Linked DNA regions of Homo sapiens: region 2 is linked to region 1. Evidence: fine-mapped QTL for protein levels in blood plasma. Region 1 holds a variant in brackets. A gene starts in the other region. All regions are shown on their forward strands.

Evidence for each region. PIP is the chance, under the fine-mapping model, that this variant and not a neighbour inherited with it causes the effect. Protein levels are from antibody-based Olink assays in UK Biobank. Linkage for the fine-mapping came from a reference panel and not from the study's own genotypes, which makes the PIPs less certain.
Region 2: it holds the start of MEPE, and the variant in region 1 is fine-mapped to the plasma level of the MEPE protein (UK Biobank, PIP above 0.99).

What each region holds. Positions count from the first base shown.
Region 1 is chr7:28,684,495-28,687,409 of GRCh38, forward strand. The region is part of intron 5 of CREB5 (cAMP responsive element binding protein 5); the gene reads left to right. Among named protein-coding and RNA genes, the nearest start is that of TRIL, 270 kb to the right of the region's middle. RefSeq lists enhancers at 659-708, 925-1,433 and a silencer at 817-986. The variant G/A (reference allele first, on the strand shown) is at 1,425.
Region 2 is chr4:87,831,490-87,834,404 of GRCh38, forward strand. MEPE (matrix extracellular phosphoglycoprotein) reads left to right here and starts at 1,480. Exons shown (of 4, transcript NM_020203.6): 1 at 1,480-1,525.

The DNA.
Region 1 (2,915 bases):
GAGTACGGCAACACTCCCTGAAGCTGTGATTTAAATTCCAGGGGATTCAGATGAATATCCCTGACCTCCATCAGTGGACGTCTTTAATAAGCTGAGAGATTTCTCCAAAAACACAGTTTAGAAGTCAAGATCCTCTGTGCTTTGCAACGTGCAGAGACAATGTTTGTCTTATCTACCTGATTCATTGGCCACAAAAGGCATTAGGGGCAATAGACTGTAGCACAAGCCATGGTCATTTTTGGAAAAGGAAAAAAAAATTGCAGCTTCATGCCTTTCTTCTGCTTTTGTGGTATTTAAAAAAAATTCTAGCGAACTTCCCATTTTCATGTTACTTTTTTCTTTTTGAAGGAAACATGAAGTGTGGGGAGAAATAGCAAAACGGAGAGATGATGGGGTTAAAAAGCCCTGCTAATAGAGTAGTGTCTGGACTGTTGTCATTGTCGTGGTGGAGCCCTGAGTGGGGAGGTGTGAAGTGAGGGGTAGAATTCAGCCATTAAAAAGGCTTCACTGTCATTTGTGAAGGATCATGCTTGACTGCCCCCACCTCCCCAGGCTGTTTTTCCTCACTCTGTAATTAAAAAAGAGACACACATACTGTCTGTTCTCCTCTTTAAAGTCACAGACGGCCCCACCCACACCAGCACCCCCTCCAGCGAGTTGAGTTGTGGGGGCACAGCCTGTCTTTCATTTTAAGGGAGAACTTGTCTTCCTTCCCTCTCCTTTGGAAGGTTCACCTGAGGGTGGAGTGCTAATCTCAGAAAGGCAAGTTTTGTGTTTTGTGGCTGGGGTCTTTTTCCTTTAGCACCTGACAGGGTGACCCATAGGGGCCAAGGGAGAAGTGACTGTGATTTCACAGCCCTTGGTGGCTCCAGACACGGGCACGTGTTTGGACCAGAAGTGGTTTTGCCCTCGCTGACAGGGAGGTCAGATGCGAGAAGTCTCCGGAGGGCTGGTGGTTGGCATTCAGCAACAGAAAATCCCATCCAGCTCCAGGAAAAAAGGGCCCTGGGCGATGGAAACCCTGTCACCTGGTTCTGAACCAAAGCCCAAGCTGCTAACTGAGGTTAGTTTTTCACACTCAGACCTTCCAACCTGCCATCTTTCACTCCCTGCTTCCCCATCTCTACACGTGTCTTGATGTTATTTCCCTTTCTCCAAACACAGGGCACTCTTTTTTTTTTTTTTTTTTAACCAGTATTTTTTTTTTGTTTCCAGCAGAACCAGCTGACCCCTGCCTGCAGAACTCCGGGTCCCTCTTGGAGCTCTCTGATGGCAGCTGTAGGGCCATCCCCAGCGGCACTGTTTCCCCCTTTGTTTACCCGTTTCTAAGGGCAAGTGCACCACGAAGGCTCTCCGAGCCTGGAACTCAGCCTGGGGCTGTTTTGGTTACATTGAAGTTTTTGCTTCAGTTCTGCCAGATTTAA[G/A]TGGTGACTTCACTAGCACTGAGCTAAAAAGGAGAAGGGGGAGGAGGGCGAGACCAGGAGAAAGAGAGCAAGTGAGCGAGAGCCCAGCCGGAGGGAGAGCCAGAGCTAGGCGCAAAAGAAGGGCCAGCACATTACATCATCGCTTGGCCTGGAATCAAATGGGAAGGATATGACTCACTCAAGCTAGTTAAGCTTTGGCTCAAATTCTACACACACTCATTCCAGAGCTCTCATGTTCTGCACCTCAGGAGGGAATTCAGCCTCAGTGATGTCCATGAGGTTTGTTTTTAATTTTATTTTCTTTTCTCCTGATTTTATAGATTTTTTTTGCCCCTACTGCCTTCTGTTTTTGAGCCTTCGTCCTCCTCCTCCTCCTCTTCATTTTCTCCCCCTTCTCCCTTTCTGCCCGTCTTTGTTTCTCCTCTTCTTCCTTCTCCTCTTTCCCCAGCCCCTCCGCTCCTCTTCTTGCCCGAAGAGGCATTTCTTTTCACTTCGATCAGAGTTTTTGTTCTAGCACAGAGACCTGAATGAGTTGAACAGAGGCCGGGTTGGAGGAAAAAAGAAAAAAAAAAAAAAGCAGAGCAAACCAAAGCAACCAGAGCAAAAGGGCCACAAATAAAGAGCGAAGCGAGAAAGAGCAAACTCGGGCGAAGTTTCTTTGCTGCGGTGTCGCTCCTAATCGGAGGAGACAGGGAGAGAGTTAAAATGCAGGAACCAATCGCTTGAATGGTGATGTAATGCAAGAACCGAAGGGTAGTTAAGTAATGTGAGAGCGAGGGGGTCAGGGTTGCAAAGCATTTACCTGCTCTCAAGGGGTTTTCAGTTTATTATCAATTGCAGTGACTGTAACCGGCTTCAGACTGCAATCTCTAATTATTCACAGACGCTCCTTTTTTATCTTTTATTATTAAAAGTAAAACTATATTATGGTATTTTAAAATAACACGATATTATCACAGCTGTGTATTATTTTCTGCCAGGATTCTCTCTCTCTGTTTTTTAAATGGCTTAAAACTGTTGTCTTTTCATAAAAGGTGGAAGTGATGGTGTGGTGGTTGGTTGGGGGGTTGGGGGGGCGATTTTTGAGTGTAACTGGTGAATTGTAAATGACTGGAAAACTGTGTGTTGTATGAAAAGTGAATGATTGTGCTGTTCCATTTATTATTAAGAATATACTGCAGCTTTTAAAAGTAATAGATGATGATCCTCAAAAGTAGTTATAGCCTTTCCCCTATTATTTCAGTGAAGGTTAACAGCAATTGTGCATTTGCTTGAGCATGTTGACATTCTGTTGTTCCACGTGCTAATTAATCCGGTGCTATCTTTAAGACTTTTATGTTCTTGAATTAATTTTTTAGATGATATGCTTCAGTAGTGAGGGGGCGATGATGAAGACTTCTTGATTGAGTTGTCTTAGAAACAGTTAATATTTCAGAGTAAGAAATTAACAGGAAATACAGGGAGAGGGGGCAAAGGATTGTGTTCTTAATG
Region 2 (2,915 bases), not on the chromosome of region 1:
TTCTTCAGAATATGACCACGTCTCATCATCCCTTCTGCCGCACTCAGGTTCAAGCCTCCATCATCTCTGGCTGGGATTATTACAAGAGCTTCCTAGCCATTCTCTCTGCCTTTTTCCTACTTCAGTCACTCCTCAATCATGCCTGTGCTTAAAACCTCCAAGGACTTTTCTTCTCACTCATAGCAATGTCAAAAGCATTGCAATGACCTACAGGTCCTATACCATCTGCCATCTAATACCCTTCTGACCTCATTTGTTGCTATTCCCCTTGCTCAGGCCTCCAACCAAAGTGGCCTCTTCTCTGTTCCTGGAACAAGTCACAAGGCTTTTATTTCTGGGGCACTATTTTTCTTATTTCTTCTTCCTGGAATGGTCTTCCCATAGACAGTCATATGGCTGCAGGCTTATCTGAGTCTGTTCATGCTGCTACTACAGAATACCACAGACTGGGTAATTTATAAAAAACAGAAATTTATTTCACACAGTTCTGGAGGCTGGGAATTCCGCAATGAAGAGGCCAGCATGTTCATTGCCTGACGAGGGCTGTCTATCTCTTCTTCCAATTTGGCACCTTGCTACTGCATCTCCAGAGGGGACAAATGCTGTGTCTTCACACTGCAGACAAGCAGAAGGGCAAAAAGGGACTAGCTAGTTTCTTCTTGCCCTTTTATAAGGTCATTAATCCCATTCATACTGGGGTCTGCCTTCATGACTTAATCACCTTCTAAAGAGCCCATCTCTCAATACTGTCACCTTGGGTTTAAGTTCTAACATGGGAATTTTGGAGGGACACGTACATTGAAACCATAACAAGGTCTTTACTCAAAAGTTGCCTTCTCATTGAGGCCTTCCCAGGACTTCCTATCTAAAATTTCAACCCAGTGTCCCCACCCCCAATGCTTGTTACTCCCCAACAATACTTTTTCTCCTTAGACTTAGTATATGTCACTATCTAATCTATTTAACTCATTTATCTTGTTTATTATCTGTCTCCCTTATTGGATTCTAAGCTCCAGGAAGACAGGGATTTTTTTCTGTCTTGTTTTGTTCACTGCAGTTTCGCCAATGCCTGTCACACAGTAGGCACCTAAAACATTTTTGTTAAATGTTGCTGAATTTCACTTAGATAAAATTGACATCATAAACTTTCTACATAAAAGGATAGCAAAAATGTTTTCCATTTCTAAACTTGTTAGGTATTCAGTCAGTCCTAATTAGCAGTTCTGAAATCAATTTTGATTATCTGACAACATGATGTCCAAACTGAGGTATTTATATTTTCTGTTTATCCCACTTTCTGGAACATTTGATAGTAGCTTTCTACCACAAACACATTTTTAGATTAAAATTACTTCACCCCCTATGGTTATCTGTGGGCGCTTGTAACAAATTGTTTGCTAGCGCTGAGTGAGCCAGTGCTGATTGGCCATTGGGAACTCTAACAAACTTTAAATTTCAGCAAAATGCCCAGAGACTTCTAATCCTGCAACAAGAAGCCAGGTATTCTGAAGGTGAAAGATACCAGGTAATTTGGCTTTCATGTTCTTGACAGCAAATAGCTTTATATCATAGTTGTTTACGTTTTTAAGATGCTTGCCACCCAAGTATGGTTTTATTACTTTTGAAAATCTTCTCTACTGAGCAAAACTGTGTAATATTTGGTGCTTTGTTTTATAAAATAGGAAATGCGTTACCATGCTCTAGAAATCATCAACTAAAATTGATGATTTGATAGCAACTTTCTCTTTTTTTTTGTTATTAGCATTATCAAGATCCACAGTAACTCAGACTTCAGTTTTCTTCTATCCCTTCACTTAACAAACTGCAATCAGGAAAATCTGATCTTATTCATACTTTGAAACCTCATCTGTGTTGATATTTCTACTGATGAGCATTAACTCATTTCATAAGTTACTTACGTTGTCCTGATCTATAAAATGCTTGGAAGGGTAAACTATAGTTAGAATTTAGATCCTTCTAATTGCATTAATTTAGAAAAACATAGCCTAGGATTTTAGAATATATTTAATAGTTACAATCATTTCTCCAAATACCAGCTTTTCCTTGAGGTGTTTAAAGATTGCAAGAATATTTAGATTATTTTTTCCCATAAAAACAAGTTTTTCTTCAAGAAATCTCAGAGTGGCATAAATTTATTGTTTTCACAATATAATAATAAGATCAATAGTCCAAAGACATGTTGACTTTTTTCCAATCTAATGGCTACTTAAGTGAGCTCACTAGTTCCTGTTGGTATATTTACCAAAATATAAACAAATACCTTTATTTGTAACTAAATGTTAGTATTTTGAACATCATTTTGTTGAGCCCAATATAAAATATGATTTGCCTTTAAGTCAACTGTACATGGATTTTTCTGTAATAAGATAAAAGAATAGAAAGTTATTTAAGGTGGCAGAGAGTCTTGATGAAGAAAACTGGGTCTAGAGCCACATTGCCTGGATACTAATCCCAGTTCTGCCCCTTAATATTTGTGAATTCTAAAGCAAGTTATTTGATCTTTTTGTGTCTATTTCCTAATCTATACAACAGGCATAGTAACGCCGCCTAACTTGTAGGGTTGTTGTGAGGCTCAAATAATTGAATGCATGCAAAATTCTTAGACCCAGTGCTTGGCTCATTTTAGTATTCAATAAATGTTAGCCATTAATGTCAGTGTTGCAAAAATTAGTTCACTCTCCAGCCCATGGATGGCTACTAATTCAGACACATTGCTAATGAACATGAGACACAGATTAGGGCACCAGCCCGGAGGCAGATAAGCTTTCCTCACAGTGCAATCTGCTACCCTGACAAACTTAGAGTGTGTTATGAGCTGCTACATCAACTTAATGTCATTTTGAATTACACAAATAATTAAACAATCTCTTTCTAAAGACAAGAGGAAGAAGAGC